Linked DNA regions of Homo sapiens. Changing the gene in region 7 together with the main gene of any one other region gives a genetic interaction. Each region holds a gene or a part of one and is shown on either strand. Other genes may lie near its edges.

What was found.
Region 1: changes in UBA3 (region 7) and EIF3H together harm fitness less than expected from each alone (positive genetic interaction), as found in Homo sapiens cells (one large-scale study listed by BioGRID).
Region 2: of UBA3 (region 7) and ATG10, changing one enhances a phenotype caused by changing the other (phenotypic enhancement), as found in Homo sapiens cells (one large-scale study listed by BioGRID).
Region 3: changes in UBA3 (region 7) and LEO1 together harm fitness more than expected from each alone (negative genetic interaction), as found in Homo sapiens cells (one large-scale study listed by BioGRID).
Region 4: changes in UBA3 (region 7) and KCTD10 together harm fitness more than expected from each alone (negative genetic interaction), as found in Homo sapiens cells (one large-scale study listed by BioGRID).
Region 5: changes in UBA3 (region 7) and PELO together harm fitness more than expected from each alone (negative genetic interaction), as found in Homo sapiens cells (one large-scale study listed by BioGRID).
Region 6: changes in UBA3 (region 7) and PPP2R1A together harm fitness more than expected from each alone (negative genetic interaction), as found in Homo sapiens cells (one large-scale study listed by BioGRID).

Annotation. Positions count from the first base shown.
Region 1 is NC_000008.11:116,724,824-116,728,323, forward strand, and holds part of EIF3H (eukaryotic translation initiation factor 3 subunit H), read right to left. Parts: intron 1,350-3,500; coding exon 1,193-1,349; intron 1-1,192.
Region 2 is NC_000005.10:82,248,023-82,251,522, reverse strand, and holds part of ATG10 (ubiquitin-like-conjugating enzyme ATG10), read right to left. Parts: intron 1-3,500. UniProt on the Homo sapiens protein: E2-like enzyme involved in autophagy. Acts as an E2-like enzyme that catalyzes the conjugation of ATG12 to ATG5. ATG12 conjugation to ATG5 is required for autophagy. Likely serves as an ATG5-recognition molecule. Not involved in ATG12 conjugation to ATG3.
Region 3 is NC_000015.10:51,947,779-51,951,278, reverse strand, and holds part of LEO1 (RNA polymerase-associated protein LEO1), read left to right. Parts: intron 1-1,284; coding exon 1,285-1,471; intron 1,472-3,500. UniProt on the Homo sapiens protein: Component of the PAF1 complex (PAF1C) which has multiple functions during transcription by RNA polymerase II and is implicated in regulation of development and maintenance of embryonic stem cell pluripotency.
Region 4 is NC_000012.12:109,456,801-109,460,300, forward strand, and holds part of KCTD10 (BTB/POZ domain-containing adapter for CUL3-mediated RhoA degradation protein 3), read right to left. Parts: intron 1,282-3,500; coding exon of another isoform or gene 1,279-1,281; coding exon 1,192-1,278; intron 883-1,191; coding exon 830-882; intron 1-829. UniProt on the Homo sapiens protein: Substrate-specific adapter of a BCR (BTB-CUL3-RBX1) E3 ubiquitin-protein ligase complex. The BCR(BACURD3) E3 ubiquitin ligase complex mediates the ubiquitination of target proteins, leading to their degradation by the proteasome.
Region 5 is NC_000005.10:52,790,916-52,794,415, reverse strand, and holds part of PELO (protein pelota homolog), read right to left. Parts: intron 1-3,500. UniProt on the Homo sapiens protein: Component of the Pelota-HBS1L complex, a complex that recognizes stalled ribosomes and triggers the No-Go Decay (NGD) pathway.
Region 6 is NC_000019.10:52,217,552-52,221,051, forward strand, and holds part of PPP2R1A (serine/threonine-protein phosphatase 2A 65 kDa regulatory subunit A alpha isoform), read left to right. Parts: intron 1-2,139; coding exon 2,140-2,313; intron 2,314-2,637; coding exon 2,638-2,698; intron 2,699-3,427; coding exon 3,428-3,500. UniProt on the Homo sapiens protein: The PR65 subunit of protein phosphatase 2A serves as a scaffolding molecule to coordinate the assembly of the catalytic subunit and a variable regulatory B subunit.
Region 7 is NC_000003.12:69,059,866-69,063,365, forward strand, and holds part of UBA3 (NEDD8-activating enzyme E1 catalytic subunit), read right to left. Parts: intron 3,273-3,500; coding exon 3,117-3,272; intron 2,315-3,116; coding exon 2,212-2,314; intron 2,063-2,211; coding exon 1,949-2,062; intron 1-1,948. UniProt on the Homo sapiens protein: Catalytic subunit of the dimeric UBA3-NAE1 E1 enzyme. E1 activates NEDD8 by first adenylating its C-terminal glycine residue with ATP, thereafter linking this residue to the side chain of the catalytic cysteine, yielding a NEDD8-UBA3 thioester and free AMP.

The DNA.
Region 1 (3,500 bases), on a different chromosome or scaffold from region 7:
TGTGCAAGGTTGGAAATGTAAAATGGTGCAGCTGCTATTAAAAAAAACATACAGAAGTTCCTCAAAAAATTAAAAATAGAATTACCATGTAATACCACTTCTGGGTACATATCCAAAAGAAAATGGAAACAGGATTTTGAAGAGATATTTGCACACCCATGTTCACTGCAGCATTATTCACAATAGCCAACAGGTGGGAGCAACCTAAACTTCCATCGCCAGATGGCTGGATAAGGAAAATGTGGTATATACAGATGATGAATTATTATTCAGCCTTAAGAAAAAAGAAGAAAATCCTGTCATTGCTACAACATGGATGAACTTTTAGGACATTATGCTAAATAACATAAGTCACTCACAAAATAATAAATGCCACATGATTCCACTAACATGAGGTATCTGTAGTCAGACTCTTGGAAACACAAAGTAGAATGGTGGTTGCGGGGATGAAAGAGGTGGAAAAAGGGATTGTTCGATGGATACAGAGTTTGAGCTTTGCAAGATGAAATAGTTCTAGAAACCTACTGCACAATATGCATACACTTAACACTACTGTAATGTATACTTAAAATTTTTATGTGCTTTTTACAATAAAAAGTTACACAGAAAATGAAACCAGGGATTTCAAACAAGTGAGAAGTTATTTTCAACTTGATTTTTAAAAAATCTTCTAGATGCTGATTTTAGCCTTTGATGTGAGCTTTTAACTACTCTCAGCCTTTGCTAACAAAGGAACTACACCTATAGTACAAAAATAAAATTTCTGAAATGCTTGAGGAGTATCTTCTTTCTGAAGCAGAAAATTGAACTCCATCTCTTTCTAAACACTGACTTATTCAAAAGAGGATAGAAGGGAATGGATAACAGACACATAAGGATGATCTTTGTCCCTCAAAACTTTATTTAGCAAGCTGATTTCATGTTGACAAAGTCAACATCAGCACAGTTCCTATCCAATCTATGACAAATCAGAATCACAAATTCCAAATAAGTAAAGGCCAAACTAATGATGTCTATAGTATAAACCCTCATTTCCCAGAATTTATATAATTTTCCCAAAGTATCAGACATCAAGTGAAGTAGGCTAGCCTGACAGATTCCCAATTCACACATTATCAAAAGTTATGGTGAGACCTGTGTCAATATCCATTTGTATGCACTGCAAAGACACACTTGTGATGAACACCCTTACCTTCATCAAAGTCAGCATCATCCTCTGTGTGCTGAGGGAAAGGAAAGCAGTTGGTAATTTCAAGCCGATCTTCTACAACCAGACCCAAAAGCACTCCTTGAACAACTTCAGTTCCTTGTCCTTCTTCTTGATAATGTTTGATTATCTTTAATACCACCTAAAACATACACACACAGAAGGGAGCTTAACAACCATCCTAGTTTATTATTTCCTTTATTTCTAAGAAAAAACAAAAGAAACTGTACTAGGTTTGCAAAACCACAAATTAAATAAGAGGAATAAATAAATGTCTTACAAATCCTTTCCTTTACCCTTACATAAATAATAAAGCTCACATAATCTAAACGCAGATCTGAAACTCCAGGAGTTTGATTACATGTCAAAAACGTCCATCTACAGCAGTTATGCTCTTAAATCAAAGCTTCCCCATGGTCTGGCATCCAGGAGTTCCTTCAGCCAAATCAAAGAATACCCCCTCAACCTGAGGCTATTATTGAGAAAGTGATCCTGTTAATAGACACATAAATGACAAAACTATCAATAAGACACAGAGATAAAGGTCTCAATTATCGGGACACCTGAAAGCAGAGCCTTCTGATAAATTCTCATTTTGCCTTTCTCAACAGATCATCTCCATAGTCAGAGGATGCAACAACGGGAACACGTACCCACACATATCCAACAACAATCTGGTTGGTATAGTCTCCAGCATGATCTAGTTTTCCTCAACCAGAAGGATTCACTAAGCAACCTCTAATGGAATAACCAGGTCTTCTACTACTCTCTCCTTTAATATTCCCATAAAGATAAGAGGTAACACCGTGCACAGGTGGACAAGAAATTAAAGTCTGCAATAATCATAATCATTAATAATTCCTACAACATGGCGTTAATATATGTAAAGTGTTTTATAGTGCCTGGCACATATTAATAATAATAGCATTAATATTTAATATGAGCCCATGGCCTGAAGACCCAAAAGGCAACACATTCAAAATTGTAATGTAAAGTTCTCAGAGGAAAAATAATTCTAACAAGAAAATGACAATTTATTTGTACGTTATTAGTGTTTCATTTAAAACAAATATATTATTGTTAGAAACGAAGTAATGGGTGGGCCAGGCACACACAGGGTGAGCAGCTACTTCTGTGTGCAGCCTGAGCCCACAGGTCAGCTCAGCCACACGGATGGTGAAGAAACAGCCTAAGAGAGAATCAATGCGGTTGTCAGCTAAACCTGCTCCCGCCAAAGTGGAAACGAAGCTAAAAAAAGGCAGCAGGAAAGGATAAATCTTCAGACAAAAAAGTGCAAACAAAGGGAAAAAGGGAGCAAAGGGAAAACAGGCCAAAGTGGCTAACCAGGAAACTAAAGAAATTTACCTGCACAAAACGAAGAAACTAAAACTGAGAAGAGTCCAGCCTCTGATGACGCCAGAGATAAAGAAGCCAAGTTTGACTGATATCATAACACACTGTATCTTATCAGTGGTCCCTATTTCCCATCTTGTACAACCCAGAGGAATACTGTTACCAACTATTTTGTAAACACAGGTTTGTGTGAGATACTGAATTATGGGAGGGTTTGACTGTCCTGAGTGTCAGCTTAACATTCCATAGTTGGGGGGTTAGTTTTTATATCCTGTAATACAAAGCATACTAAATGGCAATATGGAGTTGCAGTCCTGCATTTAATGTCTTGAACATTTTAAATTACTTTCATTCCCACATTATTTTTTAGTAGAATTGTTTCCTAAAGAAAAACACTCTTTGATCATGGCTCTCCCTGTCATAATTCTGTGCACTGTAACATCTTTGGTCGTGGTAGTCCTGCTTTTCTAATGAACTTTGTTAATGTGCTGTGGAAGATTGAAAATTTGAGTATGTAGTCTATATGGTATTATACTGTGAATTGGTGAGATCTATGTAACAGCTTACTAACATGTGAAGATACTGGTACTTGATAGCCTCTTATGGAAAATTTGCTTCCCAATTTTAAGCTGGAAAGTCACTGAAATAACTTTTTAAAAATTACAACACATGGCTTTTTAGATTTTCAGTATATATGTTAAGAATTGTGTACAAATTGAAATGTCTGTGTACTGATCATCAACACGACCAATAAACCAATTATGAAAGAAAAAAAGAAACTAATGACCAGTTAATAACAGCACATTACATTTACTAAACATTGTATGACAGGCAATAATCTAATTATTTCACATGTATTACCCTATCATGTAATTCTCACAACCACCTTAGGAGAAAGGTACTGTTAATACTCATTTTATAGATAAGAAAACTGAGGCAG
Region 2 (3,500 bases), on a different chromosome or scaffold from region 7:
ATGTGGGAATGCAGGTTCAGCATGCCAGACCTCCCTATTTGTGAAACTAACCTAGAAAAGCTGAAGTTTATGTTAAACCTCCTACATTTAAGTGTTGGCATAATTTATTTTTAAACATGGAGTGGGACAAGTAAAACAGGCTTGTAGGCTGGATTTAGACTAGGGGATGCCTAGTTTCTTCTCTTGGCTTCTTCTCTCAGCCAACCCAAGGGGAAGCTGAACTCAGAGCTGTTGATGGGATGAATTATGTGGCTGTCCTTGCTGCCTCTACCCCTCAGCTCCAAACATTCATGTCTGTATGCTTATGCACATATCCACTCACAAGAACTGGAAGGGACAATTCCTCTTGTATTGGTGACACTGGGTATGGAGATTTGGGGTGGTGGTGGTGAGGGATGAGTTATCCACTAGTGATAGGTTATTGCATGTATCTGGCATTTTTAGCACCACCTGGCATTTGTTTCTCCCTGAGTGCCATCTCCAGGTGACTCTGACCAGTCGCCTGATTCTTCCAGCAAGGCATCAGCTTCCTCTCTACAGCTCTCTTCCCAACCTTCATTCCCATCCCTAACTGGGCCCTGGGCTCAAAGCCCTGATGTGTTGGGCCTATGCCAAGTCCTCCTGTCCAACTTGAATCTGGTTTCCCTTACCTGCCTTAAACTAATATTTAGCAATTCAACATATATTAATCAATCATCTTTTTTATGTGTCTGCCAGAATACTTCTAGCTATAGTTATAGAGACCACTGCATCTCTTAGATAAACAATGTTCCTGATCCCATGGAACTTAGATTTCAGTGCAGGAGACAGCCAATAAACACACAGAACGAATAAATAAGATAATCCAGATAATTATAAGCCCTACAAAGGAAACACAACAGGGTAACATGATTCTGGAGGGATTGTGGTGACATTAGACTTGGAAAGGGAAGGCCTGAAGGAAGAGGTAATACAATGGACTGAATGTGTGTATCCCTCTTAGGGTTACACCCTAAGAGGTGTAACTCTCACTCTTTTCCTATCATGTGGGGATACAGTGAGAAGATGGCATCTATGAAATAGGAAACGGGTCCTCACCAGACACTGGATCTTCCAGTGCCCTCATCCTGGATCCTGTAGCCTTCAGAACTGGGAGAAATAAGTGTTGGTTCTTGAGCCACCCAGTCTATGGTATTTTTGTTATGACAGCCTAAATGGACTAAAATAAGGTGAAACTTAATCAAAGATCAGAACGACAAGGAAAAAAACAACCATGCAGAGATTTGGGAACAGAATGTGGGGGCAGATGACCCTATGGGGGAAATGAGCATAGAAAATATGCAGGAAAAATGCAAAAAAATTTAGAATTATCCTGGACTAAAACAATGACTGTTTAGAAAGCTGGGATTTAAAAAAGATAAATGTAGTCTAAATTCTTTTGGGATGACTTACATAGTTGCCAATGGAAGGAATAAAGAGGTATAATCCAATCTTATTGATGTAAAGTACATGTTGACTTTAATGAAATGAAACCTACAGTTACAAATTTCCACTAGACGGAAACACTCCTAATAGGGAGGATCAGTTCAATCACGCAGCCTCCACTCTCTCCAAGACTCACTTTCCCTTTGGCATCTCTTTCTTATCTAAGAGGTGGATAGGCACTTACAGTTCAGGGGACCATTTTCTTAGAGGAGTCTTAGGACCATGGCACACTGCAGCTCTGCTCATTTGATGCTGCTTTGTAAAGACATGGACTTTACTTCTATAAGTCATCTTTTTTTCATTCCACATAGCAAGTGGGTAAGCACATGCATGAGCTCTATGGTTAAGACTGTTTGAGATCAAGTCCTGCTCTACCACTTGGTAGCTGTGAGCTATTGGGAAAGTCACTTAACCATTTTACGTCTCTGTTTCCTCATCTGGTAACTGTGGCTAATGATAGTATCTGTCTCAGAGATTGACTGTGACCCTTCAATGAGATAATACCACAGAAGTACATAGAACAGTACCTGACACATAGCAGACACTTAGTTGGCTATTAGTATTTAACCCATTAATATCTAAACAGAAAAGAATAACAGCCAGACATTCAGAAAGTAGTCTTATGGTACCCTATAATAAAGCCAAATTTCAATCTAAAAATAGGACGTTCCTGTAAATTAAGTAGCATATTAAAAGCATCACTGACCAGTATCTAAGTGTTTAGGAATATTTGACAACTGTTTATAAGTGAAAGGAAGAAAGGTCTGAATTAGTAAAAGGTCTAGGTCTATATGGCAACTAGAACTATCACTATATTTGTATTCAGGTTTAAAACCAAATTAATGAAAAATAATTTAAATGAATTTAAATTAAAATAAAAGTTTAGGTACTTCAAAAACACTTCAGTAATCTACAACATTTTAATATTCATTTTTCCTCAAAGAACATAAAACAGTCATATTAGCATTTAAGGTTATGTTCTAATAGAATAAAATGCATGGCAATGTCATTTAAAACACTTTTTAAAATAATTGAGACTTTCATGCCTTTGAAGAGCTTTTAGAATAGCTTAAGCATTTCTTTAATGCAGGTTTGGCCATCTTTAAAAAATTCTTTATCCTTTACTATACTGAGACCTTATATTTATATAATTAAATAGAATATATTAAAATGAATGATGGTCTTTAAAAATTAAAAGTTTAAATTTATTAATAAATTGGATTTTAAAATAAAAATTATATTGTTTTGGCAAAATGCTTTTGGTTCAAAAGAATCAAGCCTATAATATGCTGATCAGCTTAAAATAGGAATTATAAGATATGTAATCTTTTAGAAGAATTTTATAAATTAATAACAACAGAAGTGGACTTCCAGCTGTGATAGAATAAAGAGGTCAGCAAATCCTCTCCCCAGAAATTAAATATAAAAATGAACAAAATTGTCAAAAACTAACCATTTTTGGGTCCTGGAAATCAACCAAGGGCAAATATAAAATCTGAGACGTGTTTAGTTCATGATAATCTGCTAAACTTCAAGTTAGAAACAGAGGGAATCTGAAGCCTTCTTGCCTGGAAGTACTTCCATATCCCCTCCTCCTCTTCCCCAATGTCCCCAGACACTCCATCAACAGAAGTTTTACCAGAGCAATCTGGCCATAAGAGCCAATAACTGTGTAGCCAGAGGGGCTGGCCTGATTTCCAACAGATAGCTAAAACTATTGCTCAGCAGCACTGTCAATAAAAATAGCAAAATAGGTACTAAATGAAAAGAAAAAAGCTGCAGCTCTGCTAGCCAGAGGTTGCAGTCCCAGTTGAGGCAAGCAGCAAACTACCAGTAATTTAATGGGGACATTCTGGAAATAAGACAGCCACAGAAGGGGTAGATAAGTTCTCCAGGCATCACTAGCTGATGGGAAGGGGATGTTCAGTGGAGTCACAAGAAGGCCTGATAGGAAGTAAGAGCTAAGGCCAATATGAATACTACTTGAGTTTTTAGCGTGTTCCCAATCCACGTACACATCCATTGGCAAAAGAAAA
Region 3 (3,500 bases), on a different chromosome or scaffold from region 7:
CAGCACTTGATTTGAGAAGCCATATGCAGTAGTACAGGCTCATCATTTCTCCTCTCCATCTTCTCTAATCCCTACTAGATTTTGGCCTTTGCCCACCCTGCCTCTTGTGATTACGTTGTTTAGTGAAGCAGGGCATGGTGAGGCTAAGACAGTCCAGTTACCTCAGGGCCTTTCTTACAAATCTTATGGTCAGGCTCTGCTGAAGGTTTGGCTCTGAGCCCTTGCTTTTTCCTCCATCCTGTATTTGTTCATGGAGACAGATTAAACCAGATCTAATAGCAGTACCTAACCTAGTGGTATATAGCGGCATTTGCTTTGGAGCTGGGCTTGTTCCATTTCCCCACCTTTTCTGTACAGACTAAGGGAACTGGAGGAACCTGCAGATTCCAGTCTCAGCATTATTGGAGAAGCTCTTGAACCACTTTGAGCATCTCCCCACACCCTCCTCCATGTCCCCAGCTCCTGTGAAAATGTAGACTAGGAGTCAGCTGGTTTGTTCTTAGTCCCTGTACTACTGACAGTGATTTTTACTCTAACCTCCGTACAGCCACATACTATTAAAACAATCTGTTCCATAGAATTTCTAGCAATATAATTGGAGTTGTATATGATAATACAGAGCAACGGGATGAGGAAGACCTTCAAAGAAATCCCAGAATATCCCTGAAACCTACTCCAACACCACCCCTACCCCCAACCTGGTTTAACATCAAGGTGCAGAATGCCAGGCAGTGCAAAGGAAATGAAAGGTCTACCTTGTGGCTCTAGGACGCTCCCCAACCTGTCATCAGGAGCCGTGAGGAGCTCTCTGGGTTGAGGGGCTGAGGGGCTGGGACCAGAATATCTGGGAACTATGGGAGTTTGGTAGAGCTGGGGCAGATCAGTTGTCTGTGGTTCAGGGATGAACAGGAACAGCCACTGCTGCTCCAGGGAGTCAATTTAGGTTTCTGCTGGGCATGAATGGGGTTTCTCAGGCGGGTTGCTTCTCTCTGGGTTAAGTGGCAGCACAGAACACCAGCACAGCTCCCGAGGACACACCTGTGCCAATGCCAGTTGGGCCGGTTAGTGTCAGGGCTCCCTTCTGCCGCTTTACCCTTGTGTTGCCTTTGCTCCTGCAAACCAAACCAGAGGGTCCCTGTGGAGCCACAGAGGTGGGATGGGGAACACACACGGCACAGCTGTTATCTGGACCAGACATTACATGCTATTTGTAATAAAAGTGGGTTCAAGTGGGCACAAAAGTAGCTCCTTTTTAGGTTAAAGAGGTTATTTGCTTCTTTACAGAAAGAAGAAGAACGTTTGAGGGCTTCCATACGTAGGGAATCTCAGCAGCGCCGAATGAGAGAGAAACAGCACCAGCGGGGGCTGAGCGCCAGTTACCTGGAACCTGATCGATACGATGAGGAGGAGGAAGGCGAGGAGTCCATCAGCTTGGCTGCCATTAAAAACCGATATAAAGGGGGCATTCGAGGTGAGTCGTGTATGGAAATTACATTTCATCATTTCGGGATTCTGGACTTCATCTTGGCATTAGATGTAATCCGGCTGCCAAGTCACTGGACTTTTTTTTTTTTTTTTTGAGACGGAGTCTCGCTCTGTCACCCAGGCTGGAGTGCAGTGGTGTGATCTCGGCTCACTGCAACCTCTGCCTCCTGGGTTCAAGTGATTCTCCTGCCTCAGCCTCCCGAGTAGCTGGGATTACAGGTGTGCGCCACCACACCTGGCTAATTTTTGTATTTTTAGTAGAGACGGGGTTTCACCATGTTGGCCAGGCTGGTCTCAAACTCCTGACCTCAAGTGATCTGCCCGCCTTGGCCTCCCAAAGTACTGGGATTACAGGCATGAGCCACTGTGCCTAGCCCGGACATTTTATTTTTAAAGAACGAGTTGTCATGAGTGACCTAGTTCATTCAGGTGAGCTTGAAAGGTAGGAACTGCTGTTGTTCCTACTTTGGGTTTTATCCCTTGAGCTTTTGCTTTCTGACTTGAGAATTTGCCAGTTATACTGGAACTTTTGTCAACCTTTTTTATTACCTAATTGGGAATCAAGAAATTAAACTATTCAGAAATTATGTGATATTTTCTTTCATTCTTCTTCTACATTTCTCTTAGATTTACTTTTGCATATTTCCTCCTTTCACAAGTATCACTGATTTCTGATGGTTAACGTTTTTTCCACACATACTGAATTTCAGGCAAATGCTCAACACTTGACATGCATCCTGTTTGATCCTCATAACAACATTATGATCTAGTTGCTCTTATTTCCTTGTTTTTATTGAGGAAACTGAGACTTTGAGAGGTTGACTAATTTGCCCAAAGGCACGTAGTTGCTAACTGGTCAGTTCTTAAACCAAAGTCATCTGACTTCCGAGACATCTGTCCCAGCCGTGACTCTGCATCCACCTGGTTCTTACCCAGGGGTTCCCCCAAGCCAGTAGCAAGACGACATGGTGAAAAGCGAACTAAGAAGACCTGGCTGGCCTTCTGACCCTGCCCGCTCTCATCTGAGTCCTGCCACTTTTTAGTTGTATAACTTTTGAAGAGTTACATAGTTTCCCTTAACTTCTGTTACCTCATTGTGACAAAAACAACCTATTAATAATGGTAGTTAGAACATAAGGTTGTTTTGAAGATTACATAATATAATACATTTAAAGTACTTAGCCCAGAGCCTGGCATATAACAAGTAAATTTTTAAAACACCCAAATTTATTTTTCTCTGACTGTCCCATGAAACTCATTTCTCCTTTTCTTATAGTGACTGCATTTGGTCTGGTGACCTGTTACATATTACCTACCTATTATTTATTTGGGGACCACAGTACAGAGACCCTTTCTTTTTTGTCAATGCTGATTTCCCATAGAAAAAGATTCAATTGTGTGGAAATAAACCACACAAAAATTAAATAAAAATTTTAAAAATCCAAGGATGCTTTAAGAGAGAGAGGTGTGTAACATTCAGGTCACCAGAGATTAAAAATCTAGCACATGAGTCTAGTAGTGCTCAGTTCCATACAGTAATCAGATAGGCAAGGTGTGGGGACAAAGGGAAGGCTTTGGGTTTTGACGGGAGGGGCTTGGTCTAAAGTCCTCGGCTCTTATTCCACCCAGAGGTTCACCTGGGCTTGGGCAGTGGAGCAGATGGGCGCCCCTCTACATCTCTCTTTGAAAGGTCTGCCTGGCAACAAACGGTCTTTACAGGACCAGGAAACCACTTTCTTGCTTTACCTTCAAACTCATTTTGGAATTAACTGTTACTGGTGGAAGAATGTCTCAGGCTTTAATAGTTGACTTCGTAAGAGTAGGGTATCTTGCCTCTTTAGACACCTTGCACACAAACCTTTTTCATCTTTAAAAGTGGTCAGGTTTTTGTATTTTGAGAGGGTAAGTCTGCTTCATTTCCGCATATCTAAAATTTATACTTATCTTTAAATCAAAAACTTTAAAATTATTTGGTTCCCCTGGGAGGAAATATACAGAGGGAACTAAAGATATTT
Region 4 (3,500 bases), on a different chromosome or scaffold from region 7:
ACCTGCATATATTGCTGGTGGGAATGTAAAATGGTGCAGCCACTTTAGAAAACAGTTTGGCAGGTCCTCGAATGATTAAACATAGAATTACCACATGACCCAGCAATTCTGTTCCCAGAGAAATGAAAACGTAAGTCCACATAGAGACTTTGCATGAATGTTCATAACAGCATTACACACAATAGCCAAAAAGTGCAAACAACCCAAATGTCCATCAACTGATGAATGGGTAAAGAAAATGTGGTCTACACTGTGGAATATTATTCTGCCATAAAAAGGAATGAAGTATTGATTCATGCTACAACATGGATAAACCTTGAAAACCTCTTAGGTAATCTCATTATGCTGAATGAAGGAATCTGGTCACAAAAGGCCATATATTATGCAATTCCATTCACATAAAAATGTCCAGAACAGGCAAATTCATCAAGACAGAAAACAGATTAGTGGTTACCTAGGGCTGTGGGGTTGGGGAAGCAATGGTTGAGGGAAAATGGGGAGTGACTGCTAACGAATAGAGGGTTTCTTTTCAGGCAGTGAAAAAGTTCTAAAATTAGATAGTCGTTATGGCCTCACAACTTGTGAATATATAAAAACCACATATTGTGAATATAATAATAACTGTACACTCTAGAAAGATGACTTTTATGATATGTGTGAATTATAGCTCAGAGTTATACCCCTGTATCCATCTGTCTACTTATCTATCCAGGCAGAGAGGTACAGAGGGGTCATCCTCATCTGAAGGTACGAAGAAGAGCTGGGCCTGGCTGGTGTGAGTGGAGGTTTTCCTAGTAAATGGAGCTGTCTTTCCCGGCTGACGCCTTACCTGGTATATGAGTATTTGTTGTTACTTCTGTTGTAGAGCAACTTCACGGCTGGCTGTGGGTTGTTTTAAAAGAAGAAGAAGAGAGTTACTTGGCAGGCAGATGCAATGAACTACTAGCTTCCCATAGGGCTGGGGCCCTGCCCTGCATCAGAAGAGGCAGACAAGCATAGCTTGCTGGCTGGAGAGGGGGACCACATGACCCAATAGCAGGGGCACAAAAGATGACCTGTAGCTTCCCACTGTGAACCCATTATCAGGCCTCACTCAGGCAATTATACATGTTTTTATTTCAAAAGTTATTCAGAAGAACCTCCATCATTTCTGGTAGCAAAAGAAATTCCACAAGGGTGCCTCCAACATACCTTATTTGAAGTCGCTATAAGTTTTTGTTCTTCCTTGGATGAGGTGATCACAGGGACCTTGCAGAAAGGCTCATAAGTATCTTTGTTCTGCTGGAACAAAACATGCTTTCAGCCTAGGAGGCCTGCCTAGCACTGCATTTTTAAAGTTGACCGGCTGGACAGGCTCTGGCGAGGGGAGATGGGGCAGTCATGGCTGGGAAGAGAGAAGGATTCTCACCACCAGTGAACTAGATGGGGGAAGACAGGGAGTTGAATTTCCCAGTAAGTCTGCTCTTTGGCTATGACCATGATAGGCCAGGATGCTGAGTAAGTACTAACAATGATGACACATTTTCCACAGCCCAGGAAGCCACTCAAAAATAAACCCTTGACGTGGCAGCAGAAACGTGTTTTAATCAAAAGCTCCTAAAACCCCACTACCATGACTGCAGAGGAATTAAAAAAAAAAGCATAAACCCATAAGGGGAAAAAGAATGGGAGAAGTGAGGTCAGCAGACCAGTAAAAAAAGTCAAAAATTTGAGGGTAGAAAGGTCACAGGTGAGCGTTAACCAAGGAGAGGGGGAAAGCTGAAACCAGTGGGCGGAAGCACTGGAAAGATCCCCAAATCCATCTCCGTCCCCATGCAGGCAGAAGAAAGGGCCATCTTCCTGCAGTGGTTTGCACGGTAGAGGACAGGGCTGAGCTGCGATTCTGAAAACGGGGGGACAAGTGAACATCACACTAAGTGATGAGCAACCCCAGCTCCTTCCCCTTCCAGATCCCCAAAGGCAGCCGGCCAGGCCTAGACCCGTCAGGCAGGAGGAGAGTAGAGGATTCCTCTTCAGGAACACCACCTGCTTCCCCCAAAATGGCTTACAGATTCTGACAGTTGGGGGTCCCGCTGAAAAAGTCTGCCTTATCACCCACAATGCAGCCCAGTGGACAACAAGGACCTTCCATGCACAAACAGCTTTCAGAGTCTCTCATTCCTTCAACAGACAGCCAAGCATCATCAGATTACATGTGAAAAGCCTCTTTAACATGAGAACAAAACCAAAACAAAGACAGGAAAAGAGGAGGAGTCAGATAATGAAGGGAGAAGAAAGAAAACAAACAGAATCATCAGACAGTTGAGAGCAGATACGGCCTCCTAGGAAACAAGATGAGCACGCTGTGGAAAGCAGGGCATTCGGACAGCAAGAAAAGGCTCCTGAAGTTAGAAAGACGAAGCAGAAATGAAAATTTTGATAGAAGGGTTGAAAAGGTGAAAAATAAAACTTCTGAGAAAGTAGAACAAAAGGATAAAGCCAGAGACACTAAGAGGAAAGAATTAGGAGGTCAGTCCTGGAGGTCTAACCTTAGACTAACAGAAACGAGACCCAGGGGCATGTCTCCAAGACAAAGATGAAACAGAACCTCTGATGTGTCTGAACACACCACTATGAGACCGCTGAGAACGTGGGGCTGAAGTAGGAACATATATTTAGAAAACCAAGTGAACAAAACAATGAGGCAATCCCTAACTCTGGCAAACTTAAAGTTATAGAAGAAAGAAAATAATCACTGTACACTCTGTGGCTTAACTGTCAGCCGTATTTACACGTCATGACGTAAACTCTGAATTTAACCAAAACTGTGATGAACTGTACTGGGAGAATGGGAGAAGGAAAAGTATGCCTAAGCTTGGTGGGGGTAGAGGTAGGGGCAGTGCGTGAGCTAAATTCTAGTTTCTATAGTCATGCCAGTAGATAATGTCAAAAACTGGGAATTCAATAAAGAGCAGCACAGGCGAATTATGTGGAAACATAAATGTGAACAGAAAAAACTGCTGAAAGAATTCACAGAGGTTACTGCAAGGGTGAAGGAGAGTAGGAGGGGTATGGTGGTGTTTTGATGTTAACCTTGCAGCACTATTTGACTTCTTGAAGGATGCATGTGCATCACTTTCAACAGTGTAGTAATAATAAAAAAGTAAATGCTGCAACATTCAGTTAGGTCTGCAGTGAGTTCAGACTCTCAGAGTAGAGGTGGTGTGCAGCATTATGGGTACTGGTCCGGTGCGGGGCCAGACACAGACATGTGGTGTGGGGGAGGCCCAAACAAGGGCCTCATGCACACAGACCAGATTCCTACGAAAACCCAAAGGGATGCTTCTGATGCTCTGCCACGTTGCAACTTTGTTTGAAATAAAGGGGTGTTGGCCATGTCTAGAAGCATTTTGTTTTTGTGGGATTTTACTGTCACCAGACCTGACTCCAGTGGTCCTGCTCTGTCTAGCTAAGGAGTGAGGGGTGTCTGTCTGTAGAGATTATGCTGAGCTCCCAACAAT
Region 5 (3,500 bases), on a different chromosome or scaffold from region 7:
AGGATTGGCCAGTACCCATGTATTTCTAGACTTTAGTATTTGGTAAAATAAAAGTCTAATTAATAAAATAATTTTGAAAGTACATTTAATTTGTAGTAAGGATATATGATTTGTAACAAAATATATAAACCATCTTAACTATTGATGTTTTAAAGTGACTTAGGTGCTATATTTAAATTTAAGAATTTGCATTTATTTTAGGAGATCTCATATAATTCATACAAAAAGAGTATGTGTATCCACTCCTTTGCATATTTGAATTACAATGATTTCTCATTTCAGATCTCTTACTTATCTTGTTAATAGGGATCTCCTGTTTGGATAAAATTGATTTTTTTTAACACATAAAGTGAATTCCTAACACCAACCAGCATATGCATTTTAATTTCCTTTTAAAACTTAGTTGACTTTTTTATCTTCCTTTTAAATCATAGGAAAGTTTTGATTAAAATTAGTCTTCTTCCTATATACACAACCCTGGAGCTTACCACCAACATGACAAAAAGTTAAGAGTTTGCCAAAGCTAGAGTCATTAATCCTGTGCAACTGGAACATTATATGATTACTTTATTGTCACCTTTCTCCTGAAGCTCTCTTCTAAAGATAGAGCATTTGGAGGGAGCTCTGTTTTTGGGATCTGGTGAGGCTGTTGGTGCCAGAGGAGCAATTATCCCCTAAATCAGATATAAACTTGGCACTTGAAGAGAACTGAGAGGAACAATGTTATATCTCTGTATCTAGATGGGGTTCACATACTAGCCTCTTCAAAATCTTATGACACAATTTTTAAGTGTCCAAACAAATAGAAAAGTACCATGGTAAAAAGTACCATACACTGTATATTATTGATTGTAATTTTCAGACGCACATTTTCCCAATTTTGACATCTCTGAAACTAGGAACTATCTAACAATCTAGCAATTATAATTGGATTGGGAGTGGCTTGTCTTTTTTAGTGGTACATAAAATAATGGTGCATCTTTCAACTGATGGTGTCTTCCATTCCATTATTTATAAATTTGGATAGACAGAAATATTTCAGGCAGAGGTATAATAAAATAAGGCAGAGGTATATAATAAAGGGACAATCTGATCCCTTAAGTATTTTCTGAGTTTGTCAATAGTCAATTCTTTTGCGATTCATTCAATTAAAAAGTGCCTATTATTTCTAGGTGTTATGGTTAAAGATCCTACCCTCACAGAGCATACAGCAAGCTGGAAAGACAGGCAATTAGATAGTTAATTATAATACCGTGGTGCATTATATAATAGAAGCAAAGGTGCTGGGATACACATGTCCTAAGGTAGGGTCCAATCTACTTCAGGGTATCTCTTGGAAATGACGTTTATTCAGGGATTGAGATCAGTAGCAGTGGGAGTAACTACTTATGCAAAGTCCCCAAGGAGACTTTAGAGTAGCTGGCATAATAAAGGAGCTGAAAGAAGCTCAATAATCTTGAAGATAGAAATATATGCAGTCATTTGCATCTCTTGATACTCTACTGTACTTGCTTTGAGGGCGAATACAATTCTCCAGTCACAGACTGCTCTGAATAGGCAATCTATTCTGACTTTAGCACTGTGGCAACAGTTTCAAAATATCTTTCATCTCAGTTTCTTAACATGAATTTGAGTACACTATTTTGTATTTCACACAACAGAAGAGAAGTGTAGGTAAAGAATAGCATTTTAGTCCCCAACTTTTCTAAATATATTTTAAACATGAGCTACTTTATTCTACTAAAATATGTTAAGATGTGGAAATTCAGCAAGTTCTAAATCTAGTGGGAAGTTTATTGGGTTGGAAGTGGAGGAACATGTTAGAGGAGCATCTATCTACTGAAGTCAGAACATCAGTGATAAGCTGTGGCCCAAGAGCTCATGCTTCAAAATAGCTGGGTAAGTGTTATGACAGGAGGGAAGAGAAATAGTTAAACTAGTATAGCATATATATGTGTCTCATGGTTACTCTCATTGCCTGTTTACTAAACAAACAAAAATCCCGTGAATTCATTGCTGCCTTTACAAACATCACAATGAGTAAGACAATTTTCACCATCTTCAGCAATTCCTGACAATACATTGTCTGCCATTGGGAGTCATTCTTTGTTTTGAATAAGTGGCTGACTTCCTCCCCATATTCAGCCATCTCCCATCTCCTCACTGGATTTCATTTTGAATAGGAAATCTTGCCTGTGAAAAGAAGACCCTTGCTTCTAGGCCAACCAAAATGTTTCTAGGGAAGAGAGACATATAGTTTAATTAGGGCTAATTCTATATTTATATTCTTAATAACGAGAAATAGTAGTCTTACTTGAGTTACACTTAATGCTGTACACCTAAAAATCATGGAAATAAAAGATTGACTTGTATCATTAATTAGGTCTTTATCCAAGTATTTTAGACAACTATGTTTGGATTTCACATTTAGAGGAGTGAGCAAGAGAGAATGAACTTATCTTTAGGCAGCCAATATAGCATATTATTTTAGAGCATTTAATTTGAGGTCAGAGATATGAATTGAGTAGATTTGTCATTAGTTCTTCAACTTTGGACAAATGAAATTAACTTCTTAATACTATATTTTGATTTCCTCATCTCTAAAATATTGATAATAGTTATAAAGTTTTAATTTTTTCTTTTCTTTTTTTCAAGGCTAATCAACAAGCTGAGGGAGTGAAAAAAGAACAAAGAAATCTGTGACTGCTTGTGATCAATTAGTAAACTTAATTTTTTAGATTAAAATGAAATAATACATGCAAAGCCCTTGGCACAGTGCCTTGCACATAATACATTTCGGGGTTAAGTTGTGCTAGCTATTCTGTTATTGATTGTCTTGCCCTTTGTTCTCTGGAAGGTTGGATCTTGCCATTTGGGGATGGCCAATGGGAAGGCTGAGCAAGACATCAGAGGGTGGGAGGAAAGGAGGTATATTTATTTTCCTTACTCCTTCTCTGCTGGGCTTCAATTTTGTCACTAGCTGCATTCCTTTTTATGACCACAACTCCAGTCTAATGGCCACCCTCCCATAACTAGAGTTCATAATCAAACTAACACTGCCACCTCCTCAGGCCTAGGAATGGTCATGGTTTTTCTTCTCACCTTGCTTCAGGTTCTTTTTTCCCTACTGTTGCTTGCGCTAGATGCTCCACCCTCTTTTCTTGTTCCTTTAAGGCCTCTCTAAACTGTCACTTTATGAAACTGTCTTCAGTTAAATCCTTTATATGTGACATCAGTTTATGCTGAGACTTTGACATACATAAAATAACAATCCTTTGGACATAAGGACATCTTTTTGATGAATCATTTTAGTAAACGTTGTAAGGAGCTAATATAAGACAGTCTAAATCAAATAGGAAGTTTATTGGGATGCTGGTGGCTTGTTGTTCTGATGTAAACCCAGTTTGGAAGGCTGTAGAGAGTTTATTTAGATGTCAGAGGGTGGTAGGATGGAAAGGTGGAATTCTTTTCTCGATGTATAAAACAAGGTCATATCTTCA
Region 6 (3,500 bases), on a different chromosome or scaffold from region 7:
ACAGGCAGTCCCATGATGCCATTAAGGTGTTACAGGTGCTGTTAAGGATGAGTTCATGTTTTTTAGGGTTTAGGCTAAGGTGCTCTAATATAGACCCCAGAATACATTCTGGCTTAAATTCGGTGGTGGATTTTTTTTCTCTCTCTCATAACAGTCTAGGACGAGATTCCTCACATGTGCTTGCACCCCATACACCCATTGGCCAGGAGGGTCACGTGACCACACCCAGCAGTTCAGGTTGCCTGTATTACAAAGGATGAGAGGCGGTGCTGGGTGATGACTGGAGAGATCATCAGGGTGACCACTGGGGAAGGAGTTTGGACTTGACTGTGGGCAAGCGGAAGAGCCAGAATAGAGTTGGTGTTAGAAGGCACCCTGAGGCTTATGTGAAGGAAGGATTGAAGTGAGGTGGCCAGCAGCAGTGTAGGCAGACCAAACCGGAGGCTGTGGGAGTCTGGAAGGCTGAGGCTAGACTAAGTGGTATGTAGAGATGAGGCTGCATTGATACGGAAGGATTCAAGATTGTTCAGGAGGCAGAAGGGACCACGTGGTGGTTTTTGCCTTGGTGGTGAAAAACTGGGCAGATGGTGCAATTGTGTGCTGGTGTGTGACATCTTTCCCAAAAGATGGGAAGTGTGTGAGGCTTCCCAAAAGCCTCAGTCTTTCTTCCCCATCCCCTTCTTTCTTTTTTATACACAGGCGCCCACACAGTCTGCTAGAAAGTTGGAGGAAATACTGTAACAGAAAGTACTGCATCACATTTCAGTCCTCCATGCCCCTAAAAGTTACGTTATTCAATTCTGTTACAGTGGAGTAATCTCTTAGCCCCAGAATTACAGTGAATTTTTTAATACATTGAAAAGAGTGCGCTATTTTTAATATTTTTTTGTTCTTTTTGTTTTTCCCTATTAGTGGGTGATTAACTGTACTGGTTTTAATCAGTTAATTACGTCAGTTGCTAAAAGTCTGAATCTTCATTAGTGTTCATGACAAATTTTATGACTTAAGTAATTTATCTGAGTTATGCTTCACATGCACATAGTTTTTATAATTTTATAGATATTAATACAATTTATATTTGTTTTTGATGCTTTAATGGGCATAATTTGGCAGGTGAGAGCCCCTCAAGTTGTCTGCTATGTCATTTCACACCTCTCCAGCGTTTTGGGGATCATTTTGCCTCTGGCATGAGGGAAGGATCCAGGCTCAGCCCAGTTTGAAGGCAAGCCCATACGTGCTGCAAGTGCGCTAGGACTGGAGCATTTTTTGCTCCAGTTTCACCTTCAGCAAGCGCTATATGGTAATCGTGTGCTGGCAGCCAGCCTGTCTCAGGGCAGCTTCTCTTAGAAGAAAAGAACCAGCATGGTTTTCTTGGTGTGAGGAATTCATCTGACTTATATTTGAGATTTCCATTTTAGATTTATAAACTTTATATTTTACATTTTGACTCTCACCAGAATTTATAAACTTGTCTAAATGAAAAAGGCTACCTTTTTACTGGTGCACCAAAAATAAGTCTTTTTAAATGGGTGAGGTATAGTCTCTGAGCCTTCTCTTCTCATGCACATGTTCAGCAGCTTGAGGCTCACACAGCAAGGGCTGGAGCTGGGCAAGGGCCAGTCCTATCCTCGGAATGTGCAGGGTTTCAACAGCCCAAGCCTGCCAGGCTTGTTCACTTGGTTATTGATTCATTTCAGTGCTCCTTTATTTATTTATTTTTTTAGACTAAAATAGTTTTAATAAGGAAATAGTTTTCTTCCTTCCCTTCTCCCATGTTGTGGATTGATACCCAGAAAGGAACCCTTGTTAGCAAGCAGCGGAGCTAGGATTAGAAGAATCATGTCTGCCTGTTTTTTCCAGGGTGCTGTATTTTCCTACTGTGATTCTTAAAGTCTTTTCAAAATGGATAAACATTTCTTGTGATACTATTGTAAGGTTTAAAAATCTGCTTAAGTTAGTGATCCATGCTGCTTGCTTTTTGTGTGCCGTTAATGTGTTCCCAGAACGGGGAGCTGGGCTTGGACAGGAGTAGTCCCTCGGGAGATGTCCATAAAAGTTGATGCAGCTGAGCTCTTTCCATCCTGTCCTGGGTTGCTGTGTGCATTGCATTCTCTCAGAATCCTTCTTTCCTCTCCTCAGTGCCCTGAGGTACGGCTGAACATCATCTCTAACCTGGACTGTGTGAACGAGGTGATTGGCATCCGGCAGCTGTCCCAGTCCCTGCTCCCTGCCATTGTGGAGCTGGCTGAGGACGCCAAGTGGCGGGTGCGGCTGGCCATCATTGAGTACATGCCCCTCCTGGCTGGACAGCTGGTGAGTGAGGAGGCCTGGGGGCCAGGCAGTGCTGCCTCAGGGGAGGTGCAGTATGTCCAGGGCTGTGATGGGGAAACGGGGCTTTGAAGGCTTAGTGGAGGCTGTGACAACTGCCTGGGGAGTCGAAGGAAGGGACCCAGGAAATAGGGCCTTAAAAGATGCATTGGATTCAATAAGAGAGAGGAGGGAAAGGAGCACCTCAGACAAAGTTGAGAAGTGTCCGGTCTTTCTAGGGTGGGTGTAGGTTCCATGGGATGTGGCTAGCAGCTCCCCCTGTTTGCTCTCCTGGAACGCTTACCTTGGAACCCTTGGTTTCTCCTGTAGGGAGTGGAGTTCTTTGATGAGAAACTTAACTCCTTGTGCATGGCCTGGCTTGTGGATCATGGTGAGTACCTTCACAGGAGCAGCAAGAGGAGATGGGAGCTCCAGAAAGGCAGGATGGATTGGCTGGGGCTGTGGCGGGCAGTGGAGGAGGCTAGAGTCACTCCCCACGCCGCTGGATGCTCGTATGGACCAGCTCGCATGCTTGTTAGAGTCCTAGAGAAGTGTTGAGTGGGAGGAGGACGAAACAGATCACCCAGGGGTTGCCTGGTATAGTGGAGAGCCAGAGGGCCACTGAGCAGCCAGACCAGGGTTTTGAATCCTGCCCTTGGGGCTGTCAGATCTAAAACAAGTCACCTGCTGTCTTTGAATGAGCCCCACACTCATTCTTTGAAACTTCTTATTCTGGTGCCTTGGGGCCATTATGAGAATGGCTCATTGTTTACACTAAGAGAGGTAAAAAATAAAAGGTAATATTTATCTCTGTGAAGCCCTGTTTGAAGTAATAAGTGCCACATAATTTAGGCAAATCACTTCTTAGAGCCTTAGTTTGCCCATCTGTAAAATGAAGCCAGTAGTGGAACCTACCTCTTGGAGTGGTTGAAAAGATACTGTATAAAAAAAAACAGTTACTAGATATAGCACATAGTAAGTCCTTTTTTCTCTCTTTGGCTCACATGCAGCCTGGCACCTAGGGGCTGCTTTGTAAGCCATGGTGAGTGTGACCTACATTTTGCCCACATCAGTTCTTCACCTCCAAATCCCTGTCTCTCTCACCCTCACCCTTCTGCAGTATATGCCATCCGCGAGGCAGCCACCAGCAACCTGAAGAAGCTAGTGGAAAAGTTTGGGAAGGAGTGGGCCCA
Region 7 (3,500 bases):
ACTGGTTACTAGACAAATCATGTTGGAGTAGCCTCATTTGGCTACTATGACTAACTTAGCAACTCAGGAAAATGCAAAAGATAGCATACCTAGGCTTCAGTAGAGGATCTGGAAAGGTTTTTCATGACATCCTTGTGAACAAGATAAAGAAATACAAAGTACCAAGAAGGTCTGATGAACAGAATGAGATAAACCTAAAAGGGCCTGGCCAGAAGTATGATTCAGATGTCTGTTCTCAGAGAGTTCAGTCTTATTAAAAATTTTCATCAATTATTTGAAAAAGAAATAAAGGATATAATTATCAAAACAGGTGAAATGAAGCTAGAAACACCAGGTAAGTTGGCAGAATACATATAAAGAGAGAAAAACAGGTTGAATTTTAAGAATACATTTGTAAGGACCTATACTTGGATATTAAGAAAAACAAAAAAAAAAAGACACTCCCCAAACTGCCAAGTTTATAATAGGCAGATGTGGCTTAGCAATTGCATATGTGGACAAAACATCCAGCTTTCAGTGGCTAGTAACATCAAAGAATCCAAAGTATAGCATCAATGTAAACAAAAAAACAACAACATAAATACCTGCTCTCCTTTAAGACTGCATCAGTTATCAGAAGTCTATTATCTAAAGTTAAGACCAGTCCCATAATGCTGCATGTTGGCCTGAACAATTAGGAAAAGTTGTTTTCTCTAACTATATTCCAGTTAACCAATATGGATAGCTGGAATATGGTTACAGAAAAACAACATGAGAACCTGAAGCTGTACAACATATCAAAGGGTTGGATATAGTTTGGATATCTGTCCCCTCCAAATCTCATACTGAAATGTGATCCCCAGTGTTGGAGGTGAGGCCTAGTGGGAGGTGTTTGGACCGTTAGGGCAGATCCCACATGCATGGCTTGGTGCCCTCCCTGTGATATTAAGTTCACGCAAGAGCTGGTTATTAAAAGAAGCCTGGTATTCCCTCCTCTCTCTCTTGCTCCCTCTCGTCATATGACATGCCTTGCCATCCCCCTTAGCTTTCACGAGTAAAAGCTTCCTGAGGTCTCACCAGAAGCCAAGCAGATGCTTTTGCCATGCTCACACAGCCTGCAGAACCATGAGCCAAATAAACCTCTTTCCTGAATAAATTACCCAGTTTCAGATATTCCTTTATAGCAAAGCAAAATGAACTAATACAGGGTTAAAGGAACTAACTAGGGAGGTTTATGGCACTGATAAAAATTTGCAAAGGATGTGATCACTGTCCTCAATATGTTAAAAGCTATTACTTAAAAGGGAATTAGACTGTATACAGTACTGGGACAACAGTCAGACCAAACTGAAGACGATTTCTATTTTGAGACGAAGTTTTGCTCTTGTTGCCCAGGCTGGAAAGCAGTGGCGCAATCTCAGGCTCACTGCAACCTCAGCCTCCTGGGTTCAAGTGATTCTCCTGCCTCAGCTTCCTGAGTAGCTGGGATTACAGGCATGTGCCACCACACCCAGCTAATTTTGTATTTTTAGTAGAGACAGGGTGTTGCCATGTTGGTCAGACTGCTCTCGAACTCCTGACCTCAGGTGATCCGCCTGCCTCGGCCTCCCGAAGTGCTAGGATTGCAGGTATAAGCCACCGCAGCTGACCTGAAGACAATTTCTGTTCAATATATAGAATATTTGTCTAACAGTCCTGTCCAAATGTGAAATAGACTGTCTCTAAGAGATGATGAATTCAGTGGAAGATAAAATGGACAGTTTGACTTGGATGACTTATAGCCTAAGTAAGTAAGATTCAATAATTTTATTAAATTCCCCCTAGCTAATAAGTAGTATGAATTACATGGTACCTTTACTGAACTTCAAGTGGATGGTACTGTCTAAACTCACTTATCGATTATTCTCCTGAAAGCATCCCAGCCCTAAGTCATCCCAACATCATAATTCATGACAATTTGCTGACTTACCTTGAGTGAGCCTATACGTAACACCCCTAATATTATATTGTGATGCTCTCTCTAGGGATTTTTGGAAAATCCATTGTATATGTTCAGGATCATCTCCATCTAATGGAACCCCTTCTGTTTAAAAAAAAAAAGGGAGAGAGAGAGAGAGAGAAGACAGGAATACGTAATCACAAAACAATGTTTTTAATGAAATTATCCAAAGGAATAATATAGAAAAAATATGTATTTTATGTAATTCTAGATTATTAAATTAGGTTTATTACCTCCAAAAGGCTGCTCCTTAGGCCACTGCAACATCCTTACATACTCAATACAGTGTTCTGGTAGCCTGGGCATAGATGCAATGGTGCACATGGGAAAATTAACCTAAAACCACAGTTTGTCCTTTTCAGTGAATTTTAAACGAATTATTTTAAAATGCAACTTCCAGTTATGATCTAGTTCTTAACAATTTCATACAATTTGTTTCAACTCAAAATATTGTATACCATTAAAAATGCCTCTCAAACTATAATACAGATTAACTGAGTCACTTCACTTAGGCTGCACTGCCTGTAAAGACAGGTTTGCCCTACATTTACAAGGTATAAAATTTAAGCTTTGTTAGACTATGAGAAGAAAAATACTGAACAGATTTTCTCAAATATGAACACCTTGTTATTTTTACCTAATATTTAAGTATAAAGCAAACCAAAACAAAAGCAAGTTCAGAGTTAAGTGAATCCCAAGTGAATACTCATAAAATTGTTTACATTTATTATTCAAAATTTCAAGTGTTCTTTAAAGTGGATATGTAAACCAAAAAGCCCCATCCTTGGAAAGATCATTCTTATCCCTGGTATCTTTATTTCCCTGAAATAAATACAGGTGAAAACCACATAGATTACAGCTTGACATCAATATACAACTTTGTAATTCTACTTGATACCTACTCCCCAAATAAAAAATACAAATAAATTATGAAAGCAGAATAGTATCAAAACAATGTACTCGGTTCATATCTTTCCTCAAATAGAGCAGAATTTCATATTTTATCTTTCTTCTTAGTGTAATTTTTAAAATACGGCCACTTCTAATTAACAATCCTAAATATTAACTAGACTTAATAATTAATCCCTAATTCCATGCCAAGATACTATAAAAGAAATGCAGGTGCTTTTTTGATTACCTGTGGTGGATAAAGTTCCAGCGTGCATTCGATACAAGCAGTCATTCCAGGCAGAATCACCCGGGCATTTCCTTTAAAACCTTCTGTCCCCCCATCTATCAAAGGGACAATGGAGCTTGGATCTAAGACACCATCTTCATAATTTAGAAGAGATATCTAGGAAAACAATTTGAAGGGCTTTAAAGGAGAAGGGGATAAGAATTCAAAAGAAGAAGTATGCTTTCAAGTAATCCTATGAGTCGGTTGTGCTATTGAATACCAATGTATCAAATCAAGGGATTATAATAACAATTTGTGTCTTCACCTGAAAACCAATGACTGGCAATAAACAATGAAGTAAATATACTTAATTAAAAATTAAACTCTGATTTTTCAAAAATATAT